Regions from separate parts of the Homo sapiens genome. Here region 2 is linked to region 1. The links come from fine-mapping of genetic effects on gene expression. A gene starts in region 1. The other region holds a variant in brackets. All regions are shown on one strand. Distances are from middle to middle. Region 1 holds the start of DCN (decorin). Region 2 has its middle 34 kb from the start of DCN.

The links.
Region 2: its variant is fine-mapped to the expression of DCN in fibroblasts (GTEx, PIP above 0.99).

What each region holds. Positions count from the first base shown.
Region 1 is chr12:91,179,417-91,187,770 of GRCh38, forward strand. DCN (decorin) reads right to left here and starts at 3,401. Exons shown (of 8, transcript NM_001920.5): 1 at 3,239-3,401.
Region 2 is chr12:91,212,973-91,221,326 of GRCh38, forward strand. No RefSeq gene overlaps it. Among named protein-coding and RNA genes, the nearest start is that of DCN, 34 kb to the left of the region's middle. The variant A/G (reference allele first, on the strand shown) is at 4,131.

The DNA.
Region 1 (8,354 bases):
CTGGCTCATCCAGGCAAGATGCTGCTTTCTCCCTCTTCTCTGCTCCCAAAGCACGTTGCTCTTACCTCTTTTAAAGAACTTATCACATTATATTGCAATTTGTTTTGCGTGCTTGGTCTGTCCCTCACTAGACGATGTACTCCTTCAGGGCGTGTCTTATTATTCCTTGTTCTGTACCCGGGCCTTGCACAATATTTTGCACACAAATGACTCAATTGACCATCACTTTATTGACAAGACGATTTATTCCATTTGTTCCAAGCAATCAGTCTGATTTTTTAAAACACAAAATTAGCTTTTTTTCAGTATCGAATTTCTGATATAAAAAAAGCAGATTGAAAACCTCAACTTGGTATAAGCAAGATCGGCTTTAAAAAATAAATCAATTTCCTAGTTTCTCAAACATTATGTTTAATAAGCTAATAAACACATATGGAAAATTCTGATTTTTATGTGATGTATATATGATCTCATTTTGCTAACAGGGCATTTTGTAAAAAAACAAGTATTGTTTTGATAAATGTATTCCATATTTATCCATTCATTCCACAAGCACGAATCTATGTTGTTAAATCAACTGAAGTGCACTAAATAAATCTGAGTGACAAAATCGTAATAAATCTGAATAACAAAAGTACTTGATTATATAGCAGCAAAGTCATTTGGGAGATGAAATATTTTTTAAATTGCATTGAAACCATTCTGATATCTCCAAAACATAGTAGATATTTAGTCCCATCATAGCAGATATTTAGTCCCATCATCTCTACCTTGAATTGTACACTTAGACGAATCCATATTAAAGCTGTACGTTCGTAAGTAGAATCTTACAGCTGTTTTGAGTCATTATCCAATTGTAGCATATTAAAAAAAAGAAGAAAGAAAGAAGGAAGGAAGAAAGAAAGAAAGAAGGAAGAAAGAAAAGGAAAGAAAGAAAGAGAAAAAGAAAGAAAGGAAGAAAGTGAAAGAAAGAGAGAGAGAGAGAGAAAGAAAGAAGAGAAGAGAAAAGAAAGATCTTTGTATGATCTAACCTTAAGGTATCTTCTGGGAATTTTTGCCTAGATTCTCTAGAGAAGAAACAAATGTTTTTCAGTTTCTTACATGTTTGTTCTTAGTTTATATTTACTACTGATATGTGTCTAAGGCAGCACATGTTGAATACAGGCTTGTGGCTTTTCATTTAACAAAATATCATAAAGATTATTATTCACACTGCCACTTTAAGTTCAACATTAAGCTTCTTCTAGCAGCCCACTCTCATTCAGTTACTGAGTATCCCTTTAAGAGAAGACTTTTGTTTTGGCAGCCTGTTCCTTTGGATTGTATCTGAGGGAGTGGTTTTGTATCTGTTTCCCATTAAAAATGCAATGTTTATGGTTTACCACAAGCTTGCTAGCCTTGCATATTTAATGTCTTACAAGTTTAAAAGAAAAATGAAGCAAAGTCATTGCAGATTTAATAAATAGCAACGACAGTTAATGCAGATGTCACTTTGAAATCTTTTCTCCAGAGCAGAACATGCCTGGTTGTTTCACTAACAACCCACAAAAAGAAAATGTTGAGTATTAGCTGAGAGAAATAGTATTATAATTTATGTTTGTTTACTCCTGTTAAAATGGTACAAATTCTCCAAACAATATTCTTTTTGATTGAAGCTGAATATAGACAGGCAGCTTATAACTTCAATCACCGACCTTTATTTCATTTTCATTTGCTCGTGTGTGTGTGTGTGTGAGAGAGAGAGAATGTATGTGTGTGTGTTCATGTGTGTGTGACAGAGAGAGAGTGTATGTGTGTGTGTGCATTTAACCCTGACTGTACTGTGAAAAAATAATTGCATGTCCAGAAACTTTGTGCAAAATCTTCCATAAAATCATCTGTTTTAAATTAGTGTCATGGTACTTCAAGACCCAGCATCTTAAAACATTTAATGTGGGCTGTCAATACTGATAATTCCTTTCGTCATTTCCTTCTTTCCTTAATTAATCAGAAATATAAAGAGCAAAGAGCAGCTGTCCAAGTAGTAACCAAAGAGATTGTTATTGAGATGATATGCTGTTTAAATTATACTGAAACTGTTTTAAGTAGTCTAAAAATGCATGACAATGTCCAAGATGCTAATTACTAATGTAATATCACTACTCCACTGAAGCTAGTTGCCATAGTTTACAAATGTTTTACCAAAAATAATAATTTCTGGTTCCTAAAACTAGTTAAGCCCATTAAATGAAGTATGTCATCCAGATCAACATTTGCATTATGTTATCTATGCCTCTGGTGTCACTTTCAAAGTCAAAATTTAACCCTCAAGAGATAAGTGAAGCTATAAATGCAAAACAAAATTAAAATCCTACAGCACTAGATGATTAAAAACTTCAATTATAATATATGTAATTTTAAAATAAAGAATAAAGGCGGCATTTATCCACAAACAAGGGTTACTATAGGAGGCATTTGGCTCTTTTCTGGTTAGAAACAGCAACAGGAAAAAAAAAAGCCACAGGTATTTACATCACTGGGAGCCCACTTAATCAGTGGTCACTGTGTTACCCTGTTTTAAAATTAGAAAATTAACCCACATCCTCATTTTATAGTGAATGTATCTTAAAATTTCACTTGCAGTGAAGATACTGACTGGGACACTTTACATTTAAGAAATTATACAGCGTTTTTAGTATCTTAGGCATTTAATAACATAAATATTTTCAATGTTTATTTTCACTTCTCTGGTGATAATTTCTGTTCATTTCTGGGGTTGAAGAAATATACATTAGGTATTTTCAGCTAATCACCAGAGTTCAGTTCTTCTGGGCTTTTAAAAGTCCTTAAAGCAATCAAAAATTCAGGAGAAAAATACATTTTTTAAATATATAGGTCAATTACAGATATGCTACTTCAGAATACTTTTCGGTTACCATCTCTTGAAGAGCTAAACATTCATTAATACAAACACAAAAACATTAATATAGAGAGTCATGGTGTTAGGTTACAGTTTTTTAAGAAGCATCTTTGCAAAAACAGAAGAGAAAGAAATAAAACAATGCATTCAATCATTTTATCAAATATTTAACTTCTGTTTTCAAATAATACTTGTTTAAAATGTTGCATAAAAACTATAAAAGTTTAACAGTTTTTTTTTTCCTTTTCTTTTTCTCACCAAATAATCCCTTTTGCTCGCAACTTGACCGAAGTTTTATTAGTCTGTAGCAGAGTTCAGGACAATTATTGAAAACCATACCTTTTAATCCGGGAATTTGCCACAGGAGCCCTCAAAGCTGAGATGTAATTACACTAAATATTCAGCCCAAGTAAAAGAGTTTGCAGGTGTGGAAAGGAGGAGGGGGTAGGTGCTGCTCTGTGACTAGGTTGAAAACCTCCTGCTTCTACTCCATAGCACAGTTAAAAAATAAGGTTTCCCTCAATGAACACAATCCGGCTGACACCCACATTAGATCATATGGTAATGATATGTCTCTTGTATTGTAGCCAGAAACTTTATCGGCCTTTTTTTTCCTCCCATTTGCTTTATTCTTTTTGCATCTGCTTAAGATTCTAAACTGCTTATGCAGTATAGTGGAGCAACTTGATTTGAAATTTGTCTTATTGTAGATTCATTTCCCTAAGATATTGTAACTAAAGGGTTTGTTTCCCCACCCCCCATCTCATTTCATTCTCCACCCTTTCTAGCCTTGTTTACAAGTAGCATTTATTATACTTCCAAAATGACATTTTTTTCTTGCTTTTGGGATGTGTAAGTCCAGAAAAATGGAATGAAATTAATCTTGTAGTTGTTTTAAATGTGGACTGCAAAAATAAATGAGTAGCCTTATGTGAAACTACTCATTCGGATTCCTACTTGCCTTGGAATGTTTGTGTAAATTCAAGCACTATGCTGTGGAGTTTTTCTGTATATTTTGGACATATTTCTAAAGTGTCCTGAAAGAAAGTCATGGTTTTATATGAAAAGTATGTCATCTATCACTTTCATTAATCATAGTTTAAAATCTTTCTCCCTGTCCACCAGTTTTTAAATAAAATACATAGATAACCTGTAGTTGATCACAACATAGTTTCATCCTCTATATATGAAAAATTTGATTTTCATAGATTATACTTTTATGTAAACTAGAACTTTGAAAAGGCAATAGAGTCTATGTGTCTTTCCAAATTTCAGTAAATGAAAAGAAAAACAAGTGCAACTACAAGGAAAGGTATTTATTTAGCCACTGGAAATCTTTTTTGAGCTTTTATAATTCCCTTGCTGGATGCTGTTAGTTGTCTCTGTGTAGGTCTCTGTGTTTTGACTTGTATCATTATGCTCTGGCCCCTAGGCTGTTACCAGGTGGAAACTGGAAATCAACAGTTTGAAACATGAGATGATCCCCCTCCCATCCTCCAGCCTCCTTCCTTCCCTCCTCCAGCCATCAAAGTATATTCTTCCACAGTAAATATTCTTTTTCCTCAAAAAAACTTAGAGAAATTAAATTCTCAAGTGGTATCTAAGGAGGGGGAGGCGTGTTACCACGTTATAGTTTGCCTTATTTCCTAAGCCCAGCCTCTCAGATAAACAATTTACCCTACTCTGCATCTCCTTAACATTTAATAACCACATATCTAGTTATTCTGATAGTTTAGACAAAGGCAAGCACTATTGTCCCTGGACATTGGTGCAAAAGTCCATGATCCCCTTTACTTGGAATTTATTAATTTCCTTTCTGAACTCTCCTTATATGGCATTTATCTCTTTTTGATGACATATAATCACTCCTGCCTCATATTATAATTATTTATGTACGTGTCTTACTCCAAGGGAGGAATGACATTGTGTTCATGTTTGTAGAATCCCTGCACCCAGAATAGCCATGGTATATACTAAGTTACCAAGATACATTTGCTAAATTAGTAAAGACAATCAAATGATTGGCTATGGACCGTACCCGGACTGGTGTTTTGCCCCAATCCTGGCTTACTGTTTATCAAAACTTAACCCTACTAAAGTGTATATGACAAATTATGGCCATCATTACAAGACAGAGAGAGAGAAAAGGAAGTATTAAAGAAAAAGTAGAAGAAGAAAAATGAGGAGGAGGAGAAAAAAAGACATAATGCCTTTTTATGTAGATAATTTTACTTTTATAAAAGCAGAACCATTATGGTTAAGATTTAGATCTTGTTCCTTCCCCCCGATAGTAAGCTATATGAACTCAGGCAACTTGCTTAACCTCTCTGAATTTCAGTTTCCATATCTGAAAAATGGATACAAATTCTTACCTAACTCATAGTGTTGGAGTGGAGATTAAATAAGGCAATATATATAAAACACTTAACTCAGAACTTAATCCTTATAAGTGAAAATCTCTGTAAATGCAAGCTTTTATTATGTCTTGACATATTTCAAAACAATCCTTTGAGTTAGACAAGATAAGTCATATTTACTATTTCTGTTTTACAAATGAGAAAATTGAAGCCCAGTGACTTGCCCAAGTTCACAGAGCTGGCAAGAAACAAAGCAGAAACTAATATCCAGGTCTTCTCATGCCTAATCCACTTTTCATTACTAAACTATACTAAACTATAATGTATCTTAAGAAAGAGGAAGCAAATTCTTACATATAGAAAAGTAATTATCAAAGTTTTGAGATAACATCTTTTCAGACTATTTTACAAACCATGACCAAGTTGCAATGCTTTTAAAACTTTATTTAATTTGTTCAGGAACAAATAAAAATTTTCTTTTTGTTGTTGTTGTTTGGAAAGAAACTCACCTCCAAAATCTCAAGCATTTTACCAAACATCATCATATTTAAAAGCTGCATCTTTAATCACAAGTTACATCTATCGTCATACTCATTTTTCAGTAGAAGAAACTATGTCCCAACAAAGTCATACGCAGTTAAGTCACCAAGAGGTCATGACACTATGACCAGAAACCAGGTCTCTTGCAATCCAACATGAAATGGAACCATTTTAAGACTAGAAACAGCACTGTGCACAGATTGCTTAAAGTCATTCTGGCTTGGAATGTTTGGGGTAGGATTCCCTGAATCCCTGGCTGACATATAGATATGTGAAATATTCCAATTCAGAGCACATCCCACATCTACTGTTAAACTACTTAAACTTTGATTTCTACTGACAACCCACTAGCTAACAGGGTTAACTGTATTCTGCACATTGTCGAAGTTCATTTCAGGGCCATTCTCTCTCATTGACATCACATACAAAGTATTTAATTGTACCTGCCCATTAAGGATATGAAGAATGCCAGAGCTTAGAAAGGTCTCCTTCTGACACCCCTTTACTTTCTAAGAGGTCTAGAGGCAAGTGATTATCTTCACAATCCTGATGTGACTGGTTTGTCTGTAGACTGACTCTGCAAAGTCAGATCTGGGTCTGGTGTGAATTGTCTGGCTCTGTAGTTGCCACTGTAGACAGAGTTCTTCCCTAGCCAAGAAAGATGACTAGCGTGGAACTGAGGGCACTTTGAATACAGAATAGCTTGAAAGAAAATTTGGTGTAGACAACTTTTACCTTGGCTATCTTCCCATGCCTCTATTCCTCCATCCCTTACCATTGTGTTTGGTGTCCTGGTACCTTGTACAAGTAACTTAACCTCTTTGTTCTCCAGGTTTTTAACCTATACAATGTGAGTAGCCACAGTGGTATCCCCTTCATGAGTTTATAGTGAGGTTCAAAGAAGTTTAATACATAAAACATTTAGAACTGTGCCTGACACATCTCAAGCAACACTTGTTGCTTCCGCTGCTGCTTCTCTTGTGTTTTTTGTTATTACAAACTTTACCTTGGACACTCCAGTACAATAACCAGACTGCACATCTTTTATAGTCCAGTGGATTTTCTGCCTAACAACAGAAGAAATCAGCTAAGCTATGATATAGTTTGGAGCTAGATAAGCTTTCGTTTAAGCCTTGACTTTGTGTTGTTACATAACAGCCTGGCTTTCTTTATGCATAACATTTTATTGGGCTCCAAGTCCAGCTGAAATCCATTCATGGACTTTATAAGGAAACAGAGACTCCAGGTTAAGAATTTCTACTCTGAGCAGTAAAGTAGAAATGGGAATAGAGACAGGGAAAGGATAAGTAATGAATTAAAATAGATTAAAAAGTATCAAGGAGATATTCAGTTCCTTAATTTCCTGACTTTTCTTGAATGCTCTGGGGCATCTCTTTTGTCAGTTGTAATTAATTAAAAGATTAATTATTATTTCCATAATATTGATTAGTTTGTACTTGGACAGTAAATCAACACTTATTGAATATCCATTAGTCTGCACAAGGTACATACCTCTCTGTTAAATACAAGGAAATTTACAATAACTCATCAATCAATTAATCAAAAAATATAGACTGAGGAACCACTGTGGGAGGAAGTGTTATACCAGGCCCCATGGAAGATACCAAGAAATACAAAGTACGATGTGAAGGGCATAGCCTCAAGGGAAATATGTTGCATAAGGAGATATGGCATAAACTATAGATTTGTATAATAATATTTTAGCTTTAGCATACCAGAAAACTTATAATGTATAATTCCCGGCCAAAGTAAAGTATGATGTAATTAAAATAATTGTCTTAGAAAGTCAGAGAAGGGATTGAGGGATGGATCACTTTACATTTGAGTGGTTAGGTAAGTGTTTATAATGAACAAGGTACAATTTGAGCTAAATCCTGAGGGATGAAAAGAATATGCATGGAGAGAAAAGAAAGAAATGGCTTTTTATGTTGGCAAAATGACACTAACAAACCTTGGCAATGGGAAAGCAGAAGACAATAAATAAATCAATGTGGCTTAAGCAGATACTTTCTTTCAAAGAAGCCTTGAGTTCCTTTATTTCTTTGAACATTCAGTAACTCTCATGGTATCTGACATGTCAAAGTCACACAATAAATTAATGTCCCATGTTTATGGAAATAACTAAAAGGAGATAATGAAATAAATGAGGGTAAGGTCTAACTGTGGAAGGACTTGAAATTCTCCCATGGAGCACTTATACATTTATTCATTCATTTGTTCATCAAATATTAATTTGTTGATGAATATGTGCCAATTATTATGCTTGAATCTAGATGTTATCAAAGGTAATTGAATGAGGTAATAACATGATCCAATTATTATTTTAGAAAATCAAATCTAGCAAGCACATGTAGAGTGGTGAAACTAGAGTCAAGGAAACTAGTTAGAAGGTTGTAGTTTTAATCTCAGTATATTAATATCTTAGTAAGGGGAAGGAAGATAGATGAGCATGGCGAAAATAGAGCTACTTCTCAGGAAGATGATGTAATACATTAAAAAGAAAAGTTTGGAGTACTCATTCTGCACCAGGCACCATG
Region 2 (8,354 bases), 34 kb after region 1:
TAATTGGGACTATAGGTGTGCGCCACCACGCTCAGTTATTTTTTGTATTTTTAGTAGAGATCAGATTTCACCATGTTGGCTGGGATGGTCTCCATCTCTTGACCTTGTGATCTGCTCGCCTTGGCCTCCCAAAGTGCTGGGATTACAGGCGTGCTCCACCACACCCGGCCTGGACTTCATATTTTTAAAAATTTACTTTAGATTCAGGAGGTACATGTACTTGTTTGTTACATGGATATTACATGCATAATGGTGGGAATTGGGCTTCTAGTGTATCCACCACCCAAATATTGAACACTGTACCCAATAGACAATTTTTCAACAATCAACCCTCCTCCAACCCTTCTCCATTTTGGAGTCCCCAGGTTCTATTATCTCAACCTTTATGTCCATGCATACTCATTGTTTAGATCTCACTTATAGGTAAGACCATGCAGTATTTTATCTTCTTCTTCTGAGTTAGTTTACTTAGGATAATGGTCTGCAGTTACATCCTACAAAGGACATGATTTCATTCTTTTTTATGGCTGCATAGTATTCCACAGCATAAATATTACCACATTTTCTTTAAGCAGCCACTGGTGGACACTTAGGGTGGTTCCATGACTTTACTACTGTGAATAGTGCTTTTTATAAACATACGAGTGCAAGTACCTTTTTAGTATAATGATTTCTTTTCCTTTGGGTAAATATCAAGTAGTGAATTGTTGGGTTAAATAGTAGTTCTATTTTTAGTTATTTGAGATATCTCCTTACTGTTTTTCATAGTGGTTGAACTAATTTACATGCCTACCAACAGTTTATAAGCGTTCTCTTTTCTCCACATCCACGCCAACATCTTTTGTTATTTGCCTTTTTAATAATAGTCATTCTGACTGGCATAAGATCATATCTCAGTGTGGTTTTAATTTGCATGTATCTGATGATTATTGGTGTTGAGCATTTTTCGTGTGTTTGCTGGCTGCTTGTATTTGTTCTTTTGAGAAATGCCTGTTCATGTCCTGTGCCCAGTTTTTAATGTTTTTTTATTGTTGATTTGTTTGCATACCTTGTAGTTTCTGAATATTAGTTCTTTGTCAGAGTTAACAGACAACCTACAGAATGGGAGACAATATTTGGACATCTTTTTTTTAGCGAAGTCATAGATCACAGAAAAATTGTGTATAGAGTACAGAAAATATATTCTGTACATATTACTATATATTCTCTTCCCACATAGTTTCTCCTGTTATTAACAAGGGGCTTGATGAATGCATAACACCATGCATCCACCATTACAGTATCATACATAATAGTTTGAACATCTTAAAAATGCCCCGTGCATAGGTAAAACTATCTCCACTTACTCATTCCTGTTTCCCTCTCCCTGAATCTTTGGACACCACTGATCTTTTTACCATCTCTGTAGTTTTTTGTCTATCACAGAGTGCCATATGGTTGGAATCATTTGGAATATAGCCTTTACAGACTGGTTTCTTTCTCTTAGCAATATACATTTAAGGCTCTTCCATTTCTTTTTGTGGCTGATAGCTCATTTCTTTTTATTGTTGAATGATATTCAGTTGTATGGATATATGATATTTTGTGTAACCATTATCCTACTGAAGGACATTTGGTTGCTTCCAATATTTAGCAATTATGAATAAAACTGATTTACAAATTATAGGCAGGTTTTTGTGTAGACAAAAATTTAACTCATTTGGGTAAGTACATAGAAGAATGATTGCTGGATTGCATGTGAAGCTTGTGCTTCATTTTGTAAGAGACTGTCAAACTGTCTTGGGAAGTTGACATATCCTTCTGTATTTCCACCAGCAATGAATGCAAATTTCTGTAAACACATCTTCATTTTAAGAAATACAATCTAAATAAAGTCATTCAAAATAGCTTCTGAGTATGATAGTTTAATAAACATCAATTAAATTATACTTACTTCATGTTACAGAAATTCTTGTTTATACAAGTAAAAGGCATTTGATATACGTCTCCTTGTATTGTTTTGCAGTCTTCACCATCCATTAAAATAAATATCTAAGACATTCCATTTACATGTGTATGTTTTTGCATAAGATCCTTTAAGAATACTTAGCTAAATTTGATAATGCTTAATCCATTTCATGTATATTTATATTACTATAAATTATGTATATGATTGGTGAGTCTCTGAATTTCTATACTTTTGAGATAATCATAAATCATGTTGTTATTATTTAATCTCTGTACTTGGCCTATACTTGGTATGAATATTTTCTCATGATCAGATATGTCTTAGAGAGATTCAAGAATTATAGCACTTAGGATTCCATTTAGTAAGAAATTGAATTTTTTTTAGCATAAAACCCTTTTACAATATAGCCCATGATCTCCTCTGTATCTTCATTTATTTCCACCCATCCTCATACTAAATGCTCCAGATAAAAAGAACTACTTAATAATCTCCACTTACAGTATATTTGCTTTAGTCTCTAAGTTCTAGAGGCCAGAAGTATACAGTGGATTTGAATCTGGGTCCTGCAGTCAAAGAGCTTGTTTTGAGTTCCCTGATTCGTAACTTTGATATTTGAAATTGGGTAAGTTATTTCACTTTTATCAGCCTCAATTTCCCCATTTATAAGAAGTAGTTCATAAAATTGTTGTAGAGATTAAATGACACAGTATCTGCAAATACTTCAGCACAGCAAAGACGTAAACACAATACATATTGAGTATTATAATTATTAATAGCAGACCTGTTTCTTTTGACTGACTGCTTTTCTCTTTCTTTGCCTCAGTTATTTAAAAAAGACACCTCAAGTATTATTTCCTTCTAAGACATTTTCCTTAGAAACCCTTCATTAACAGGCTGAGTTCTTGCAAGGTGGATCCTTCTCTTTCCAATATCCTAAAACTCATTTCCCTTTTATTATTTTATTTTTAATTGTATTTTGTCTCTGCCACTAACATGTAAATTCCTTGATGTTACAGACTCTGTGTTACTCCTTTGTTATGGCTAGCACCAGGCATATAGTCAGTGTATCCCTTAGGAATCTTCAGTAAAAATAACAGAATGCTTGACTCATTCTCAGGCTTAAATAGCAGAACTTAATGGAGCAAGTAACTGAAGACCAGAGGCACGTCAGATTTTAGGTAATATGTAACCCAATGTTGTGATGACATCACAAAAGACTCAATTCCTTTCCAAGTCTCCTTGGCACCTTTCTCAGTGCTCTTTCAATCTAAGGCTTCTTTCTCTTGGGGTTACAAGATGGCCGCTGTCATCTGCCAGTGGTTAAAAGACTTTGCATTCATAGTAAGCAGAAGGAGAATTTTCTTTTTTTTCTGAGGAGCTCTCTTGGGAGAATAAGAAAGTTCTTTCTCAAAAACCCTCAGAAAACATCTCCTCCCATCACGTTGGCCTGATTTGGGTCATGTTCTCATCCCTGAAGCCAGGAACATGGGTTGTGCCTATTACATTAGTTCAGTTAGAACATACCTAAAACAGAAATTATCTTCCCCACATTTATAGGAGCTCCATAGAGAAAAGAAAATACTAGAATAAAAGTAGAATTACTATTACCGAGAAAAAGGAGGGACGAGTGTGCTAAATATAAGAACAATATCCTCTCTTTTCAAAGGCACAAAATAGGATCTGAAAATATCTTTGACCTGGATGTTATAGAGTCTATGAAAGAGGGTGATATACTAAAGCATGATTTGTCCCATTTTTATCTTTTTGAAATGAAATTTAAATTGTGTGCATGAGGGTTAGCCTTCAATATGTACAGTTTATGTTGTATATACTATTTGAATTTTAATATGAGCTTTATGAAAGCAGTGTCCTGCTTTATTTTGTTCACTGCTGAATCTCTAAGTCATACAACGGTGCCTGGCACATAACAGACATGCAATAAACATTTGGTAAATGAATTGATATTTCCAATGTTTGGGATTTACTAATGGAGAGACCACGAATGCGGAAGTTGGGGTAAAAAGAAATTACATTTGTTCTGTCTTATTATTGGGATGGCCAAAGCACTGTGTTTATGAGTAATTTACATGGCACTAAAAAACAGGGATCAAATAAAGACAATGTGTTCCAAAGAACTTGTTCAAATCATGTGAGCAGCTGCATCATAAGATGACTAATGAAG[A/G]AATTAGAAGCACTGAGGCAAGGACTTTAGACCTGTGTGATGGCAGAGAGCAGAGTTAACCCATGCTAGACTGTTCTTAGTACAGCAATCTGAATGTTAAAACCTAATGTTCAACATAGCACTCTTCTGCACAAATACTGGCAATGGCTCCTCATTTTCATTAAAAAATAAATAAATAAATAAACATCTCAAAATTCTTAAGAGGCACATGAGGCCATCAAGAACATTCTCCAACATCGTCACCACCACTGTAACTACTACTTCTTCTTTGTCTTCTTCTTCTTCCTCTTCCTCTTCTTCTTCTTCATTTTGTATTACTCGCACACTTATTCGCTCCTGCCTTCTCTTTGACTGAAATACTTTTCCCTTACATTGTGCAGTTGTTTCTTCAGTTACCTTTACAGAAGGTCTAACATGACCACCCAGTTTAACACTGCATCCTATCCCTCCCTTCCACCTTGATACTTAATACCCTTCACTGTATTCTACCTTTATTTCCATAGCATTTATTACCTTCTCACATACTATAGAATTCACATTTATTTTCATTTTATTTTCATTTCATTTTGTAACTTCCCTATCAAAAAGGAAGCCCCAATCAGGTAGTAGTTATTATTTGTTCACTTATTTGTTCTGAATGCATAGAACAGGACTTGGCCCATATAATAGTAACTTTGATATTTGAAATTGGGTAAGTTATTTCACTCTTTTAACCATTTATTCAAATCAGGAGTTCAGGCTTATCCTATAACAGTACCCAAAAAGGCAAATTTAATCTCCTTTATCTTTCCACATGCTATTAGCTTTCTAGGTCTCTTCTATGTTAGAAAACATTGCTGCCAAATAAAATGTATTTTGAACATATTTAATACTCGGATTGTTTCCCTGCATTTTAGTGAAATTCAACTGTCAAATGGAATTAAACAATGATATAATAGGTTAATTCATAACAAATTTTGGATTTCTGAACATTTGTCCAAGTTCCAGACTTAGAAACAATTTTGGGTAGAAGCTCAAATATATGTTTAATTACTTTATTGTATGATCTGTTATGTTTGAAACTTGAGTTTTTCTAGAAAGATCCTGGTAGGGCTTGGGGATTGTATGTTTGACTCTAGAATGGCACATGTCTTTTTCTGTATTACAGGTATCTCTAAAAACTTATGATCCTACATTTATTTTTTTAAATAGCACTAGCCAATAAATAATCCTTACTTTTATGGAATACTAATTTATAAAAACTGTTGCCCAAATAAGAGATACAATTTCTGCTTCCTGGTTTTTTTCTGATGGAAGCCTTTCTTTCTTTCTTTAAATTTTATTTTATTATTATTATACTTTAAGTTTTAGGGTACATGTGCACAACGTGCAGGTTTGTTACATATGTATACATGTGCCATGTTGGTGTGCTGCACCCATTAACTCGTCATTTAGCATTAGGTATATCTCCTAATGCTATCCCTTCCCCCTTCCCCCACCCCAAAACAGGCCCTGGTGTGTGATGTTCCCCTTCCTGTGTCCATGTGTTCTCATTGTTCAATTCCCACCTATGAGTGAGAACACGCGGTGTTTGGTTTTTTGTCCTTGCAATAGTTTGCTGAGAATGATGGTTTCCAGCTTTATCCATGTCCCTACAAAGGACATGAACTCATCGTTTTTTATGGCTGCATAGTATTCCTTTCTTTCTAAATTTATTAAATGATACTAATGATAGCTTCTTATTCAAAAACTTGTCAACTTTTTCATGATTGATGATTATTCACAAAATCAAGTTTTGTTATTTTGTTCTGCATAGTATTGTTCTACAGAGATTCATTCCCTGAAGACATTAAGTGTTTTGTTTTGTTTTATAGGATTCTTGTTTTTCCTTAGACTAGGCCACCATTTTTCTGGGTCTGGCTCTTGGACAGCCTCCTGTCTTCCCTGTGACATCCCATAGTTCTCAGAAATCTCTCACCTGAATTCATCCAAGCTTTGCTCCTCAACATGGCAAACTTTTAATTGTCTTATGTCACTAATCTATTTAATTCTTTTCCTCTTTAATTACCAAAATTTTTCTTATTCCTCATATAATTTACTCATTCCTTTACCTAACATTTCAATACATATTTGGAATAGAAAATATGTAGAGAAGTAATCATATTAAGAAGAGATCATACAAAAGTATTATTCATCTCTCCATGATACTTTATATATTCACATAATCATGTGTATACACATTTATTCTTTAACTCATGTAATATTTATTTTAGTAACAATTGAGAACTTGTTTTATGTCATGCACTAGGCACATGAAATACATTAGTGAAGAAGACGTATTTTACAGAAACTATGAAAGATAATACATGTTTGTAGTGTTATGCTACTTAGTTATGCAATTTGTCTCTGCTGGCCATGATGCTAGCGAGGGTGGCTCATTTTGTGGTAGGGGAAGCAATGGAACATACACTTCCCAGATGGCTTCACTCATATGGTTGCTTTATGGGGCTAGATTATCTTTATCACAGCACACAATGGTTTCAGGATACTTCAAAGCCTTATGTGGTGTGGAGCTTTCCCCAGAGCACCACAGCAGAATTTCCCATCTTTCTTAACCTTTAGACCAACACTGGCATGGCATGACTTCCTTCCACTAAGTCTTGGGTAATTTGTGACACAGCAATAGATGACTAATTTAGGATCTCTACTTCAGACTATTTCCTGCCAATTCCCAAGCTCACATTGCTGCTAGTCTCAGGACTCATTGACAATTTGGTGGCCCATAAAACTGAAGTCTGAAATAAGATAGACCTGATTTCTAGTTACAGATTGATAACTTTCTAGTCATGTGTCTTTGAGCAAGTCAGGCCAGTGGGCAGTTTCAAACAATCTATTTCTTCATCTCAAGAAAGGCCAATGATGTTTATTTCATTTGGATGCTGTGAGGATCAAATAAGACAGTAATAAATGTAAGCTCTGTTGTCATTTCTGTTCACATGATCACATGACCCTTTAGAAGAGTTTCTCTACCTGCTAAGTTGACAATAGAATTAGGGAGTGGAGTGCAAAAGCTGATGTGAGAAGACAAGTTATTACCTGCTCTTGAAACTCAGACAGGTCATGATAGTAGCTCGGAGAGAGAAGGATTAAAGTAAAATATATTGTAAATTTAAAAAGACAGAAATTCCCTTTGATGACATCCACAGACACATAAGTTTTTTATAACTTTTTTTATTTATAACTTTTTTTATTTATAACTTTTATATCCTTTTAACAAAATTCCACATCTCTAGGTTAAATATTTCTCTTTCTTTAAACATTTCTCATAAGCGATGTTGTGTTATTCTTTTGTAAATATATTTTAATCCATCTAAATCCTTCTAAATGAAGGTACTCAGAACTGAAAGAAATAGTCCAAGAATTTACCAACCAGTACAGAGTTGGACTGTGCCGCCCTAGGTTTACCTGTGGTACTGTCCTTAATGAAGATGGATATGATATCCTTTTGGTCATGAAATCATCTGATATTGAATGTTCTGATAACCAAAAAAGGGGCTAAGATATGACCCCTTATTTTGTGACAGTGAATTCAGTTGACTATACATGAGCAAAGGTGTCATAGTTATCCTTGATCAGTTTCACCTCATAACACATCCTATCTCAGTGCATTGGGATCTTTTTGTATATTTTTTGCTTACAGATTTTGTCCACAGACATATTTGTTCTTCTTTACAAATTCCGATTATTTTCAATCAACTTAACCTTATGAAATTTATTGCTAAATGCATGTAAGACTTTATCCATATCTAAATGGAAAGATAGAGATAGGTGTAATATAATCAGCATCAAAAATGTATTAGAACATATGTGAAAAATCATATCAATATGTCTAAACCAAATAACTAGATAGACATGATTCAAATTTGTTGTATTTATGTTTTTTTCATAGCATACACTGATCTGAAATTCATTAATTCATAAATTTGTGTGTGTGTACTATATACTCTGCTAGGTGCTGGGAATACAGCAATGGACAAGGCAGAGTAGGTGTGTGGCATTACAGGGTTAATAACAAGCAAACAATGACAACCCATGACATGAAGGTGATTCTATTTCACTGACTTATTTTTTTGCATGGATTCTACATGTGTAATCAATTTTAATTGTTAGATTTATTGAAACTTCATCATATTAAAATGAATTTCATAATATTTTGTTTTACCACCAAGATAAAACAATTTTTAA